Homo sapiens: one gene and its partner. The protein of the gene in region 2 purifies or fractionates together with the protein of the main gene of each other region. This does not show direct contact. Each region holds a gene or a part of one and is shown on either strand. Other genes may lie near its edges. The genes, in order: CTDP1 and STK38.

The links.
Region 1: the proteins of STK38 (region 2) and CTDP1 purify together in Homo sapiens (affinity purification with western blotting; 2 studies listed by BioGRID and IntAct, with this or other methods). This does not show direct contact.

What each region holds. Positions count from the first base shown.
Region 1 is NC_000018.10:79,702,476-79,710,802, reverse strand, and holds part of CTDP1 (RNA polymerase II subunit A C-terminal domain phosphatase), read right to left. Parts: intron 6,037-8,327; coding exon 5,886-6,036; intron 458-5,885; coding exon 367-457; intron 1-366. UniProt on the Homo sapiens protein: Processively dephosphorylates 'Ser-2' and 'Ser-5' of the heptad repeats YSPTSPS in the C-terminal domain of the largest RNA polymerase II subunit. This promotes the activity of RNA polymerase II.
Region 2 is NC_000006.12:36,515,154-36,523,480, forward strand, and holds part of STK38 (serine/threonine-protein kinase 38), read right to left. Parts: intron 6,665-8,327; coding exon 6,581-6,664; intron 2,688-6,580; coding exon 2,564-2,687; intron 340-2,563; coding exon 185-339; intron 1-184. UniProt on the Homo sapiens protein: Serine/threonine-protein kinase that acts as a negative regulator of MAP3K1/2 signaling. Converts MAP3K2 from its phosphorylated form to its non-phosphorylated form and inhibits autophosphorylation of MAP3K2.

The DNA of each region.
Region 1 (8,327 bases), on a different chromosome or scaffold from region 2:
AGGCTGAGGCGGGAAGATCACGAGGTCAGGAGATCGAGGCCATCCTGGCTAACACAGTGAAACCACCGTCTGTACTAAAAATACAAAAAAAAAAAAAAAAAAAAAAAAAAAAAAAATTGCCGGGCGAGGTGGTGGGTGCCTGTAGTCCTAGCTACTCAGGAGGCTGAGGCAGGAGAATGGCGTGAACTCTGGAAGCAGAGCTTGCAGTGAGCCGAGATCGCGCCACTGCACTCTAGCCTGGGCAACAGCAAGACTCCGTCTCAAAAAAAAAGAAAAAAAGAAATACTGCTCTAAATTTCAAGATGCGATTTTTGAAATGGGAAATGAACAGCGAGGTCTTTGTGAGGAGCGCGGCTGGGTACATACCTAAGGTTTCCCGTTTTAGAAAATGGGTCAATACATTCATCCCTTGATAATATTCGGTGAGAAAAAAGCTTCTTCTCGGGGTCTAAAAAGCCTTGGAAAAGAAAACAGGACAAAGATTACATACCTGAGACACGTTTCGGTCACACGGCACATGGTGAAGCCTTGAATGTTTTTTTTAAAGTGGCAGACACACAACATGATGAACTGGCACCAAACACTTCATCCCTTTTGAGGTAAGACGTGGCTCGTGTGGGGCTTCTTTTCTCTTATGGTGAACTTATTTCTCAAACACAAACCATGTTGATAAGTGTTTATAATTCTACTAACATGAAAAATTTGTAATATCTTACTGAAGTGCCTATCTAAACCAGATGGATATGAAAATTATGGAAGGCACTTGCATAAGTAAAACAGGTAAGTCATCATTTGATCTCAAAACACTCTGCATGTGGTTCTTCACGTGATGGAGTCTGGACACTAAGCTGAAATTACTCTGCGTCACCTCGGATATGATCTTTCCTAACCCCAGGCGGGTGGCCCACTGCTCTCATCTGTAATGGTTAGTGGAGGAAAGGTTATCAAGGAAGTTTGCTTCTCCCAAGTTACTTTAGTAGAATTATACAAACTCACACTCTGTGTTGTAGAAATACACAGAAAGGCCGGTTATTTCTAACTATTATACACGTTTTAATAATGGTAATTTAGGCAACATCGAGGAAGCCTGCCTGACAGAGGAGACTGGGAAGGAAGGACATCCGGGACACCACCTTGACCAGCTAGTGCAGAAGGTGCTTCCACAGCGAAGAATCCGCTTAGGCTACATTTGACACTTGCACTTCACATGACATCCGTTAATTACAAGTCTAGTTTAACTTTTTAACAGTAATTTTCTAAAGAGCTTCACATGCTTGATGCTCAGCTTCGACTCCTTAAAGATAGTAAAACCAAGCTATCTGCAAACATCCCTTCTACACTTCAGGAAGCACCACTGTGAAAATCAACAAATCAGGCAGAGGTTTCTTGGGATCACCTCTGCTCTGGGTTTCTTGATCTATAAATTTATCTTCTGAACTTTAAGCCTACTGTGTTATCTTCCTAAGTTTGCAAAGTCTTCAATTTACAGTAAAGTGCTCATATTTTTAAATAAAGATAATTTAAAAATAAGTTATCTCTTGTTAGTTTACAAGAACCACAGAGTATATAGGAAACATATTTCAGTTTGTAGAAGTAGGGGTACTAAACAAAAACAAAACAACCTTTCAGGTAATTTATTCCATTGGTAAAATATGTTGGAGGCATCAAGTTCAATGTCAATTTAATTTCACCAGCCATTTAAAACATTCTGGAGAGAAAAAGCTACGGTTAATTATGAAGCCTCAAAAAGAAATGTTTCAGCTACTCATCATACAAGTGGCTGAAGCCATAAATCTGCACATACCTCAAGAGATAGGTATTCCATGGCACCCACATAACGTGTTTAAGGGTATTCGATCATTTAACATTTACTGAGTTTAACATTACTTGGAATTTTGCTAGGAATATAAGGTGCGGGAATGAATACAACATAATTATTACTCTCCCAAGAGGCTGAAATTGTAAGAAAATTGAACACATTAACACACAACCTCTATCTGGCCTGACACGTGCAGGTGCCGTGGAACAAAACGGGGACTGGATTGCACAAGAGTGAGCCGGTCCAGAGTCGGGAGCTGGGACTGTGGTCTTGTCATGGCACGCAGGTCCCCTGCATAACCGTTAGTTATGCATGAAGCAAAGGAGGTAGATGAGACATCTCAAAAGCACTGTGAACCCAAAGTCCAACCACGCAGCCCACATTCTCTCAAGACTTAAGTCTCACTGGAACGCCTGGCTCCACGCCTCTGCATGGCACACGGGGTCCACTTCCGGATCCGAATGCACCCCGGAACGCCTGGCTCCACGTCCCCACGTGGCACACGGGGTCCACTTCCGGATCTGAACGTGCCCTGACTGCACTCCACATAATCACTATTGTTTTCACGCTGGCTTTTAATCAACTACTCCCTGCACCCATCCCTACTGGGCTCAACCTCTGCACCACCACCTCTGAGATCACAAATGCGAGAAACACATTTGCTGTTTTTGATACAGGTTAAAACATACACATTACAATTAAAACAGAAGAGCTGCTCTGTGCACCACCTCAGTTACCCTGCAGCCCCACGGCACTATGCACAATGCACTGTGGGATCCGTAAGATCTTCTGGGAAGATGAACCTGCTTCCTGGCTGAAGCATCACCACCTCCAGACGTTTCAAATGCAGTACTGCCAGGAGCTTTCCGTTCCCTGATACCACTGGTTTGTTAGTATTTCATTAACCAAAAGATACTTGGGCTTAAAGGAGAAATAAATGCGATTGTTTCTCACTATGCGTAAATTCCAGATGATCACTGAGGCCATGAAGTCGCTAGATCTAAAGTCTGTTAATAGAATTATTAGCGTCTCTACTATCAGATAAAAGACACGCATCGCAAACTCTTAACATCTCTGTCCTAGTCATACTGAAAGCACGCATGCTATCAACACGGTCACTTTCAAAATGAAAAGCATCAAAAGCAGATGCTCGGCGACCACCTCAGGCTTCAGTCCGGACCTCACTTTCTCACTTGTAGAAAAGCTGACCCAGGTCATCTCTACAGATCCCGCCAGCCACAATGAAGCAAAGCTCGGCCTTCCTGAACCACAGCCTGGACACAGTCTTCCTCCTGCGTTGCTGGGCTCGAGGGCCCATGTTCTGTTGAGAATTTCTGCATCCATGTTCAAAGGGATACTGGTCTGCAGTTTTCTTGTGATGTCTTCGTCTGGTTTTGGCCGACATCCCTTGGACACGTTGGAATGCTGGAACTTTAGCATAGAAAGCAGAGCTTGAAACGGAGAAGGCACCAGACGGCCCGGTGACGCTCAACAAACCTAGCTGGTCTCACTGCAGGAGGACCCGCGCTCGAGGCTCTCCGCAGCCAAGCGCCCACCAGCAGGCTCCCTGCTCTGCTGTCTAAGCGGCTCAGAGGCCTGCGGATGTCTGCATGGATGCTCTGCTGAATCTGCGAGCAGCTCCCAGGCTCCCTCCAGCTTTCAGGCTGATAAAGAAACATGGCGTTCTCGTCACCTGCTTCATCTCTCACCACACGAGGCCTCATGAACGTGGAATCAGACTGTGGTGACCCATACCCTGCCTGCTGGTGTGACGGGTGGCAAGGGTGTAGCCCGGCTAAAACCTGGGACCCTCTGCTTTTAGCCCAAACCCCTCCAGCCAAGCATTTAAACAGATCCGAGCCTTCCACATGCTCCTCCTCACTGGGGCTTGTGTGCTCTGACCAGCAAACATCGATGCACCTCAGGAAAGGATAAGCAAGACGTGTGAAACAGCGAACCTAAAGAAGCCCAGCTTCAGAGAGAGACCTGGAGAAGGAAATCCGAAATGAGAAACACTTGCACGGGCACCAGATCAACGTATGGAAGACGGGACAGGAGGAGAAGAAACATCACTGGCATCCTGGACTCAGACGTGCAGGTCACCGGGCTGTGCCCGCTGGTGTGCGCCTTGTGTGGGAGGCGGGAGGCAAACCCGTCACCCTCCCAGGGAGCAGGCCATGCGGCGTGCAGTCCTCACAGTCCTGGGGGTCAGGAACCACTCCCTCACCGAACAATCCTGGTTTTAGGAACTCACCCAGAGGATCCAGTCCACAGAGGAGGGAAAAAAATCTTACATAAAATGATGAAGATTTATAACAACGTGATGGATAAATTCTTAGTGATGAAATCTTATGTGAAAAGAACGGTATGTAAACTTGTACATATATTAAGACAAACTAGGCAAAATTATACATACAAAAAAAAAACCAGAGAATAGGGGACAGCCATGGATATGATGAGCGTGAGGAATAATTTTCTGGTTTTTAGTCTTTCCCTGACATTTGTTATTGTGAGAGTGATGCCCCGCTCAGTTGTCTGGTTTGAGTGGGCGTCACTGTCCCTGCGGTTTGTGTGACTTATGGGTTGTCCTCTGGGAGGTGCCTGGCACTGGCTGCAACGGCACAATCTGGGGCTGGAACACATGGGGATTTGGGGGTCTATTTCCACACAGTGGGCAGCTTAGTCGGCCTGGGCTGCTCTAAAGAAACTCCATAGTGTGGGTGACTCAGGAACACACGTCCCTTCCTCACAGTTCTGGAGGCCGGCGTCCGACCACGGCGCCAGCAACTTGGCTGCAGGTCAGTGGGCGCCGGCTTGCTGCATTTCCCGCAGCTCCCAGGGCCCACCTGGGTAAGGGCCCTGATTCCATTCACGAGGATGGAGTCCACAGGACCTCACCACCTCCCACGCCCCTCCTAACACCCTCGCCCTGGGACTGGGTTTTAACACATGGACTTGGGGGCTGTAAAACCCTCAGATCATAGCAGGCATTATTTCTTCACTGGCCCGAGGAAGTGAGCAATATCACCCTTGTGCATAATTACTCGTCTTCACATCATCTGTCTCAGGCAGCTATGCAGCAGCAGCCATAATGTTACAGGTGAATATTTCAAATTTCAATTACAAGAGGAATTAAAGGTCATGATCACAATTTCCTATAAAGGCACTAAATATTAAAGGAGGATTCAAAATTCATTTCCCCAACAACAACAAAAGACTAAGACCAATCTAGAAAGACCTTTGAATTTTAAAATGCTCAGTCTAACAACCTCTGGAGCCAGTACGGAGGAGCTTGCCTACACTGCCACTCGGCGCCTACATCCATGTGGGACAGACGGTCGCCGTCCCGTGGCAGCCCCCTCGCTTTGTCCACGTGGGACAGACGGTCGCCGTCCCGCACTGTCCCCTTGCTTCGTCCACGTGGGACAGACGTTGCTTCGTCCACGTGGAACAGACGGTCGCTGTCCCACTTTGTCCCCTCGCTTTGTCCATGAAGGACAGACGGTCACCATCCTGTGGCGTCCCCTCACTGCATCCACATGGGACAGTCACCGTCCCGTGGCACTGTCCCCTCGATTCGTCCTGCTGGTGCTGCCTCCCAGAGGGCACCGTAGCCTGGCATTCACGCTATCACCCAGGGAGACAGAAGCAAACGCTAAACCCTAAGGGTACCCATGTGTAGGCAGGGGACAATCATGCTGTGTGCAGTGACAGCACCCAGCAAGAGCACACACAAGCAGCCCGGCCCAAAGTCCCTGTGAACTGATTTAAGAAGGTATCTGTCGGAGGACGCTCGCAGAAGTTTCCACGTGCCCATGTGGTCCTGACAAACTCCCAAAGCGGCCCACCCAGTACCGCACCCGGCCAGAGCAGCCGCGGCCCCACCCAACAGCCCTGGTGGCAGAATTCCCTTACCTCTCACAACCCCCTGCACAACGGCCAACCCTAAGACTACAACTGAGTTGCAGGAGAGCTTCTTTTCTTTCTTCATCTTTAAGAAACCATCACCGAAAACAGGAAAGAAACCCACTGTTCACACGGCCTCTTCGGCTGCGGCTTGACTGACCTGCGATGGTGTGTGCGTACAGCCGGCTGCCGAAGGTGAAGACGTGCAGCTCGTACAGCTTGGCGATCTTCTCCAGGAAGTCCTTGCAGTGTGGACGCAGGCGCGTGTGCAGCATGGGCTCACCCCGGCCCAGCTGGAAGTGAAAGATGCCCTAAAAAGAATAGTAGCAACAGTCGGGAGAAAAGGCCTGAGGAGCCCCGGCCGCCCCCGCAACCTGTGTGCCCGAGACAGGCATCCTGAGAACACACGTGTGCCCCAGACAAGCGTTCTGAAGACACGCGTGTGCCCGACAGGCGTCCTGAAGACACACGGGTGCCTGAGACAGGCGTCCTGAAGACACACATGTGCCCATCCCTCCACATGGGACAGAGGATACACGTTTGCATGTACACGCCCCTCCACACGGGACAGAGGACACATGTGAGCATGTACACGCCCCTCCACACGGGACAGAGGACACGTGTGCGTGTACACGCCCCTCCACACGGGACAGAGGACATGCGTGTGTACACGCCCCTCCACGTGGGCATGGGACAGAGGACATGCGTGTGGACACACCACTCCACGTGGGACAGAGGATGCGTTTGCACCCGCCCCTCCACATGGGACAGGGGATAGGAGTGTGCACACACCTCTCCACGTGGGACAGAGGACGCATGTCCGCCTGACCCTCCAAATAAGGACGTGACCCTAACTGGTGCAAGGGGCTACCCGTGGCATTTAAAACCCACTGTGTAAGTAGTTTCCATGCACGCGGTACGAGTGAGTGAGTGCGGCCTTCTCTGCTGCGGGAATGCCCTCAGTGAGTGTGAATACTGACTGCCCGTGGTAACTAGGATAACCACCTACCTGCAACAACTGTTCAAGATAACCACCCTGGGTACCACGTTAACAGTAACAGCCTACGGTAACTACATGATAACCACCGATGACAGCTACACTAACTACTCACAATAGCTACCTGCCTGCAACGACCCGCCTAGGATAACCACCCCCGATAACCAGCCAAGAGTAACAGCCTGTGATAACTACACGATAACCATCCCCAATAACCACGCCAACAGTCACCACCTATGATAACTACATAACCACCGATGATAGCTACACTAACTACTCCTGGTAACTACCTACCTGCAACGACCGCCTAGGACATAACCACCCCTGATAACCACGCCAACAGTAACAACCTACACTAACTATGAGCTAACCACTGATGTCACTTCTGCCTTTGTTTCCTCGCTGATACGTGTTACACAGCAAGGCCACCGCAGCTGCTCGGAACAGACCTCCACCAACATCACGTGCTGACAGTGTTTTCCTGAGCTACTGAATAAAGGAAATCAACATTCCCGGGTAACCTGGTATAACGCATGGGTGATTTTCAGACAGTTTCTTTCATCTACATATACAACATAAAAGCTGAAAGTATTCTAAGTCATATTTAGTAGACAGTGAAATGAGCAACACCGACTCGCTTACATATGATCGACATGCAAATGAGTCTGCTTTCCTTAGGAAGCTAAACTTCGATCCTTTAAATCCTGTTATTTTCTCAGTAAAATATTTACTCTTAATGGCTTTAAAAAAAGGTAGATGACTTAAGCTCAGTTACATTTTTCTAGTTCTAAGTTAGTTACGACCCTCATGAAGAAGCTACTCTGTTCAAGGTTTAGGAGTGAGAAGTTCTAGTAACAACTTTCCCAGTTACATTTTTCTAGCTCTAAGTTAGTCACGACCGTCATGAAGAAGCTACTCTGTCAAATATTTAGGAGTGAGAAGTTCTAGTAACAACTTTCCCATTACTCAACAGTAAAAAGTCCAGCAGCTGTCCAGGCTTCGGGAGCTGTGGCCAGCACCACTTCTGATCCCTGAAATTGCTTTCAGAGGGGCCAGCAGTAGGGCCAGGCACCAGCCTCAGGGTCTCCTCTGGATGTCAAGTGGGGCACACTACTGCTACTGAGGAGGCAGAGGACAGACCGTTCATGCTTAGACCCCCCTCCCCACTACATCAGGACACTGTCACCTTCCAGACCACACAACTGAGAAACAGCCACATTATAACTAGACTCCACTGTCTTCAGCAGGCCTATCCTGGAGATACTGAGAATCACATGAATTTTTTGGTTTCCCAGTGAATATAATCCATGCTGACACTCTACTGCAGCTTATTAAACATTCAATAGCATTATATCTAAAAGAACAATGTACCTAACTTAATTTAAAAATACTTTATTATTAAAAATCACCGGGCGTGGTGGCTCAATGCCTATAATCCCAACACTTTGGGAGGCCGAGGCGGGAGGATCACTTGAGGTCAGGAGTTCGAGACCAGCCTGGCCAATATGGCACAACCCCGTCTCTACTAAAAATATAAAAATTAACTGGGTGTGGTGGTACACGCCTGTAGTCCCAGCTACTCGGGAGGCTGAGGCACAAGAATGG
Region 2 (8,327 bases):
ACAGAACCATAGCCTTTCAGAGAAAGGAAGTGACAGCAAACTTACCTGTTTAAAAAAAAAAGGAAAATCATGACAAGGCAGGTCACAGCTCGCCCACTGGGATGACCACAGGGGTGCAGGTGTTAAAGCAGAGGCTGCTCAGATCAGTAAACGTGCATAGTTCATGCCAATGCCCCCCCAATACCTTGCTGTCCAAAAGAAGGTTGTCTGGTTTGATGTCTCTGTGGATGAATCCAAGTTGGTGAATAGAGTCTATGGCTAATACTGTTTCTGCTATATAAAACTGAGTCTCCTCTTCTGTCAGAGTGTCTTTTTTCATCAACAAGGTCATCATGTCCCCTGGAAACAAGAAGATACAAAGCCACCACACACACACACACACACACACACACACACACACACAACATACGAGTGAGTACCAATTTTCAGATATGTCTTCCCTATCTGCCAAAATAAGGCGGCTAAACAGACCTCTTCTGTGTGCCAGAGATAGACCCACATGGCCAACATGGGAAGAAATGGGATTTTCACACCTAAGCTAGCTAAGGTTGACCACTAAGCTGTGATTTCTATTTTACTTTTGAGAGAAAAAGAAAATTTCTCCCACACTTTAAAAAACAACTGTATTTGCTTAGGATAATTTTTTGGACTCGGGGTAAAATGCTACTTTACTTTTCACTTTGCCTGAACAAGTATCTGCAAGCTTTTCTGCATCTGTAACTAAATGGCACTTCCACATACAATCTATGTATTGTTATAGAGAGGCTGAAATGCCAAATAAAAATGTAAACACTCGGGCAGGCTGAAAACAAGCTTTCCAACTTCTATTCACAGAACACAAACAAATAAAAAGGAAGGACTTGGGTAGCAAAGCATTAGTCAACAAAAGCTAAAAATGAACTGAAAATGCTATACACTAGAATGTGCAATAACTGCCTCCTGGAAGAGTACAATGAACACCTCTCAAGGTCAGTGCTTTTTTTTCTCTAGTGCGTTATTATAGGTATTTAAATGGACACTAGTACCCTTTATGTAACTTTTAAAACACAGTATCAGTATTCTAGCAGTTAAAAGGTAACCTCGTTAGTTTTCTGCAAAGTCAAAATTTCATCATTTCTAATACCAGCAACATAAAATGGCAGAAAAAGATTCAGGTCCTAACTCAACAGTGAGAAATGCAAAGAAAATATGTATAAGGAGTTTAAAACTAAGAGAAACAGTAAAGATTCAGTTTAGACCTCACATAAAGTCACTTATGTTAGAAAACAAGGAAAAGAGAAAGAAACCTCTGATTTTAACAGAGCATCATGCTGCTTTTTCAGTTTCATTTCATTTAGAACATTATGTTTTGTATTATTGGAGAAAAGTAGCTATTTTTCCCTCAGGCAAAAATTAAACCATTTATTAAAGTGCTCTTTTTCAGTCCAATACTTAAAAAATATGATTTCCTAATCACTCCTGGCAGCCCTTCAATCTGGAGACCCACCAGACACATGGAGACAGTGCACTTGGGCTGCTACCCCAGTAAGGTAGCTATACGGCCTTAGTTCTGTGGCTCAGGAGAGCAGTCAATGGGGCCTCGCCTGTGCAAGTTTGCCCAGATGATTGGAGAGCTCAGGCCAGATGCTCTATGGCTCTGCAGGCCAGCTCCACCAAGTGCAAAGGGCAGGGTCCAGGAGACATGAGAAGCTACGGAAGATGGTACAGGTTGAGGCTTGAGGACACGTTAGGAGCTGGTAACCAAGTTGGCTCTTACTCTTATTTAAGAACTAGCATCTAAATGTTAAAAAAGTTTCTCCTCATTCTACCAGACTCTTTTCTAACATTAATCAACTGTTTATTTTTTATTAAATGTGTTTCTTTATTAAAAAGTATTGATGACCCTAAATCTAAGGGTTGTCACAAAATCAAAATATTATGCCACAATTATAGGAACAAAAAAGAAAAAAGTTCTCTCTCTTTTTTTTTCCCACCAGAGTTTGCTCAGAGTTCATCTGCTCACTGACAAACAGACTGCTTTCCTCAGAACAGATGGCATGTTCTGTTCTGGGTTTACTTTGGAGCTGTCTTAGGAGATGCTCATGCTGAGTTACATAAAACTTAAAATTTCAGAAATGAGAAATTTTTTCTGGCTACTAATATGGGTAACAAAAAATTCACTCCTTATTAATATGTTATACAAAAAGAAACAAAAATTTGGAGCAAAGGATGTTATAGCTTCAATGTTGTCACTTGGGTTATTGATCATATATGATTCCCATTGACAGGAGAGCAGGCAGAGCACCCTAATTTATTCCTATATATTTTAAAAAGAAGAAGAAAAGAAAGAAATGTCCATCTGAAATCATGTAAATGAATTAACAGGTTACTTTTATGGTACTAAGATTGTAGAAAGGCACCCCAGCACAAGACAGGTTACTGACTTCCTTTATAGACCTAAAAAAGGATATAGAAAGCAACTTTGTGAGCACATTTAAAAGTAGAAAGGAGGGTTAATCGTGATGTGAGAGAAAGAAACCACAGAACAAAAAGAAAAAATGACCTTTCATCGTCAAGTAATTACCTCCAGGCAGGAACTCCATGATTAGGTAGAGGTTTAGCTTATCCTGAAAACTATAGAACATTTTCACAACCCACAAACTGTCTGCCTCCACTAGAATGTCACGCTCCGCACGAATGTGGCCAACCTGGAGGTATATGCATTTGATTAATGACAAAGCTTGCTCTGCTTTATTAGATTGTATATTTGCTTAAACAATTTAAATACTGTGCTTAAATACTGTTTTGAGTATTTAATCGTGATGATATAAAAGATCCAATTTCTGCTTAGGCAAACCTACTAACTCAAAATTGACAACATTTGACTTCAAGGTATTCAGTGATGAAAACTTGAGTGATGAAAGGCTTTAAAAAATGGCAAAATGAATGGCTTTAATGCAAATAGCAACTTTAACACTGCTATAAACTGAATCTCTGATTAGTTAAAATTACTACTCTTTTGCATAGAGTTTTGTCTAATAATCTTTTATGATAAAAATAAGTCCCCAAAGTGAGACTCTCTTCCAAGTTCTTCCTCGGGTCTGCACTAGTATCTGCAACAACAGTGAGCTCACTGACAAATTCTAGAATGCTATGATACCACAGCATTTAGTTCACTGCTATGTGCTCAATCAATCCTTACTGAATTGAAATACAAGAACACCTATGAAAAGTTGTAGATTCAAATTAATGACATTTCCAATTTTATACTTTTACTGAAATACCTATAAAGGACCAAGTTGTAGAAAGTTTCAGAGAACCGGAATTATTTTGTTAAAGCAATGCTTTATTATCAAATTTACCTTATTTACTTTAAATGCAGAACAGTAATCAAACATCACTGCATATTATCAAATCCCCCCCACACACACTTTTTTTAAAACAAGATGGGGTCTCGCTCTGTCACTCCGGCTAGAGTGCAGTGGCGTGATCATAGCTCACTGAAGCCTCAAACTCCTGGTCTAAAGTGATCCTCCTGCCTCAGCCTCCTAAGTAGCTAGGATTATAGGTGTGTGCCACCATGCCTGGCCCCTCCCCTCTTTTTTAAGTGTCACAAGGTCTAAATTGGGTTGATTCAGATCTAAATTTATTAAGACTCAGTCCAATCCCTGAATAGTGGTTTTGGTCTTAACATATGCTACAGGTCTTGACTTTTTACAACATGTTCTGAAGTAAAACATGTACCAAGGTTCACAAATTGGCAAATTTAGTCCATGGCTGTTGGCAAATTTAGTCCATGGCTGTTGTTTGGTTTAATACAATGTTTGATATGATGCTTGTTTTATTGACATGTCTTTAGGGAGACAAGGCACTCTTCCATTACTCTTCCATTTCAACACCCTCTCCCCTGGTCTTATATCTAACTTGCTTCAGGCTTCTATGCTAACTCTTGGAGGCCCAGAGGCATTTGACTTTATGTATTTGAGTTTTCAGTATCTACTAAAATCATTCTTTGGGGAATTTTTTTAAAAGCTGCAACTGTACAGAAAACCTACATCTTTACATCTGTACTTATGGTATTGGGGTGGGAAAAAATGGACAATAAGGGTGAAAAGAAACAGTGCTATGAAACACAATGAAACCAAGTAAAGCATCTGCCTTTACTTGACCTTAATACAGAAGCAAAGCTTTTGGGAAACAGTAACATTGCTTGCTGCCCCACAGCCATGGCTAGGACCCAGTCACTACAAGACATTAATACAGTAGAAGGCAGCCTTCATCTGCCTGTCTCCCCTGGCTCCCATTAAGCTCCCTACCTACTGCAGGGAGCCAGAGAAAAGGAGAGGCACTACAATTACCACTTGTCACTCACCCTGGAGGACACAATGGTGCCCATAACATTTCCTGTTTGTCAAGGGGAAAGCTACCATGAGCACACCTTGCCTTTCTCTTGAGGCTGAAACAGTAGCAAGAAACCTCATGGTTTGAAAGTGGAGTTGGCTGAATATAGATTAAGGGAGGGAAGAGTCTGAGGTGCAATTTATACAAAAAGGTTCTCTTTCCCCTATTCCATAAATATTTAATAAGGTGGGGGGTGCTAGTTGCTATCCTGTGCCCTAAGAAAGCAGAAATAAAAGCCAGTTTTTTGTCCCATCAATAACTGTATACTGGCATCACAACTGAAGGTTTTCCTTTTGCACTGGAAGAGAAACATCAGAAGCTAGTTAGATGTCATGTCTTACCCTTTAAATTTTTCCAGGTAGCAAAAATTTCCACCACGTGGAGCAGAAAAATAACCTGAACTCTCAGTGGGTAGCTTTAATTCCTACCCAGTTTATTTAGTAAAAGCAAACAAAAAAACAATTTTGCCTCTGTACCTCTACTTTGTCAGCCCTACCCCAAAATGGTGATGAATTTGCACTGGTCTACTTCCATCTTTTATCTAGCACAAAACCAATGCATGCTTCTTCAAGATGGCTAAGCCAGGTAGAGTCTGTGGCCAGAGACTTTAACTGGCTCATAATGAGATCTGTTAAGTTGAGGAGTTGAGTTCTCAGCTAAGGTGAGCTAAACAATTTAAGTTAATGTACCATTTAATCCATAAGTTAATGCATCATTTAAAATGTTAATTCTAATAGTTTCTTTACTTTCATTTAGGAAAGTTTTAGAAAGTGATTTTGAAGGCACAATATTTGCGAAAAGGCTTTTTACACATTATGTCTGGATCATCCTCTGTTAGAAACCATGCGGGGCACCTGGTATACATAAAATTACTAACTGAAAATCATATGTACTTTGTTTTGCAGTATTACTCTGACAGTTAATATTTAATAAAAAGAGGTCTTAAGCCTTGGTTAAAACTGTAGGAAACATACCTTGCAAAAACAAAACTTACTCATGAGATGCAAACATACTAATTAATGCAGAAGCTTTATATTTTCCTTCTCAAGATTAACTGAAACTTTTTCAGTGCCTACACACCCATACCACACACTAATTTGTAGATAGTATGTAAGTAGGCCGGCCTACTATGAATTTTGAAAAAGGTTGGCGTTAGCATAAACTATAGTGTCTCAAGACTTACCGCCCAGGTATTTGATACTCCCAACTGAAATTCCTGGGAGTCTAAAGCTTCTCGGTAACACATGAAAATTTGAGAGAAAATAAAAATTCCAAATTTTGGGGTGGCATTTAAATGAAGACAGGGAAGACCAGTGATTATATCTCCTCTCAAGAGGTAGAAAGGATTGGATGTGGGGCCAATCTCCATCCCCCCTCTTTGGCCCTAAATTAGGAGTTCTCCTTGTCACAGGGTCTCCATGTTCCTATAACATCAAATCTTTTACAGGACATTTGCGGTCATCACCCACTGCAATCTTTTCTTAAGCAACCAGCTACATTAAACTAGATTTATAGAAAGTCTATTCTTGCTTTTTAAAATATACTTTCCAATATTTAAAACCTTATTTATTTTGCATAAGGCACTTTATAAATTGATTTGCAAACCAGGTTTTGGTTTTAGAAAGTATCCTTTATCATTAAAGGAGAATTTGCATTGTTCTGTCATTTGCATTGTATTTTTCAAATTCATTCAGAAATTAGAAGGCTGGTCTTTTTCAGGTACCGATGAGCTACCTAGAAGACTCAACTTTGGTTTAGGTAAACAGAATGAAGCATATAAAGACACATTTTAGATTATAAATTCCAAATTCTAATTCCTAGTCCTTAGTTATGAGATATATATACAATTTCTATTTCTCAGCATTTGGTAAGAAACACACTACCACACCACGTACGACCTCAAAAAAAAAAGGCTCTCACAATAAGGACATCTTGTGATCAATTGGAAGACACAAGTAAGAGCTGCTTTTGGAACAGATTTTCAATTTTTAAAAGATTGCATATAACCTACAGGCATTATTTGTGATTTTAAATATGAACTGCTTCTTTGTAGGGGGAAAAAGGTAGTATTATATATATAGTCATACATGACAGAGCTAAAGAAAACTGTAATAAAAATATATATTTCAATTAAACAAAAAGAAAAGTTTTAGGAGACAAAAATTAATAAGCTAAAAGCACTGCTACAACTGTGCTTTACCTGCTCTTTTTCAAGCATATCTGCTTTACGGAGTATTTTCATTGCATACACATGTCCCGTATCTTTCTTCTGAACAAGCCGTACCTAAAAAGTTATAAAAGAAATGCCAAGTCAAAAACTCGTACTACCAACCTAATGCTTTCATGTGTTATAGGATGCAATAATTAACTGAAAAAGTATTACAATTTTAACATGAGCAACTAGTAATAACAAAGCAGAAGAAAATGCTTTTCAGTGTTCCAAAATGAATACATTACACACAGTAAAGTCGATGCTGGAAACATCCTCAAATACCTCTACATCTGAACAGCTTTGGTTCCTTAGTTGAACAAGCCAATCTAATTTAAAACCTTCAATTTCAAATTTAAGGACTCGTTACACCTCTGACACATGTCATCCAGTCAGCTCAGAAAATCTAAGTAAATGATTACAATGATGTTTAATTAAAACAAAAGTAGCTGTGCATGGTGGTGTATACCTGTAGTCCCAGCTATTTGGGAGGTTGAGGTAGGAGGATCGCTTGAGCTCAGGAGTTATGAGCTATGGTGCATTATGCTGATCAGGTGTCTGAACTAAGTTCAGCATAATATGGTGACCTCCCAGGAGCAGGGTGGCAGAGGGGGGGCCCACCAGGTTGCCTAAGGAAGGGCAAACAGGCCCAGTTCAGAAATGGAGCAGGTCAAAACTCCCATGCCAATCAGTAGTGAGATCGTGCCTGTAAACAGCCACTGCACTCCAGCCTGGGCAACACAGTGAAACCTTGTCACTTAATCATAATAATAATAACAAAGTAAAACTTCATGCTTAGGAAAAACGTCTGGAAAGAAAAACAAAAAATTCAGGCCAGGCGCGGTAGCTCACACCTATAATCTCAGCACTTTGGAAGGCCGAAGCAGGTGGATCACCTGAGGTCCAGGAGTTCGAGACCAGCCTGGCCAACCTGGTGAAACCCCGTCTACTAAAAATACGAAAATTAGCTGGGTGTGGTGGCAGGTGCCTGTAATCCCAGTTATTCGGGAGGCTAAGGCAGTAGAATCACTTGAACCCGAGAGGCGGAGGTTGCAGTGAGCCAAGATCAAGCCATTGCACTCCAGCCTGGGCAACAGAGCAAGACTCTGTCTCAAAAAAAAAAAAAAAAAAAAAAAGAAGAAGAAGAAAATTCAAAATGTGTAATTAGGGAAATTGTGTTTTATGTAGTTTTCCTTCTCTTTTATGTTTTCCAATGTTCTTAAAGAAAACAGATAATTTTATGAAGAAAATTTACAACCAAAAGAAAAATTTCACTGCAAGTTCCTGCATGTCCTCCCCTCTTCTCCCAAAATAAGTAGGTTTTCTTCTCCCTGAACCTTTCTTCATGTTTTTCCTAATTGAGTACCACAACCCTTCCTTGCCAAACAGAAAGCTCTTTCAGAGGTGGTACTATACTTTTCCCTCTTTCAAGAAGCCAATAGGAATTCTGAACACTGAGGGATCAATCTATCACCTGTGCCTCTGAATACTATTCACATTTCCCCGGGGTACCAGGTTTTTTGTTTTTTTTTTTTTTTGAGATGGAGTCTTGCTCTGTCACCCAGGCTGGAGTGCAATGGTGCAATCTCGGCTCACTGCAACCTCTGCCTCCTGGGTTCAAGCAATTCTCCTGCCTCAGCCTCCTGAGTAGCTGGGATTACAGGCACGTGCCACCACACCCGGCTAATTTTTCTATTTTTAGTAGAGACAAGGTTTCACCATGTTGTCAGGCTGGTCT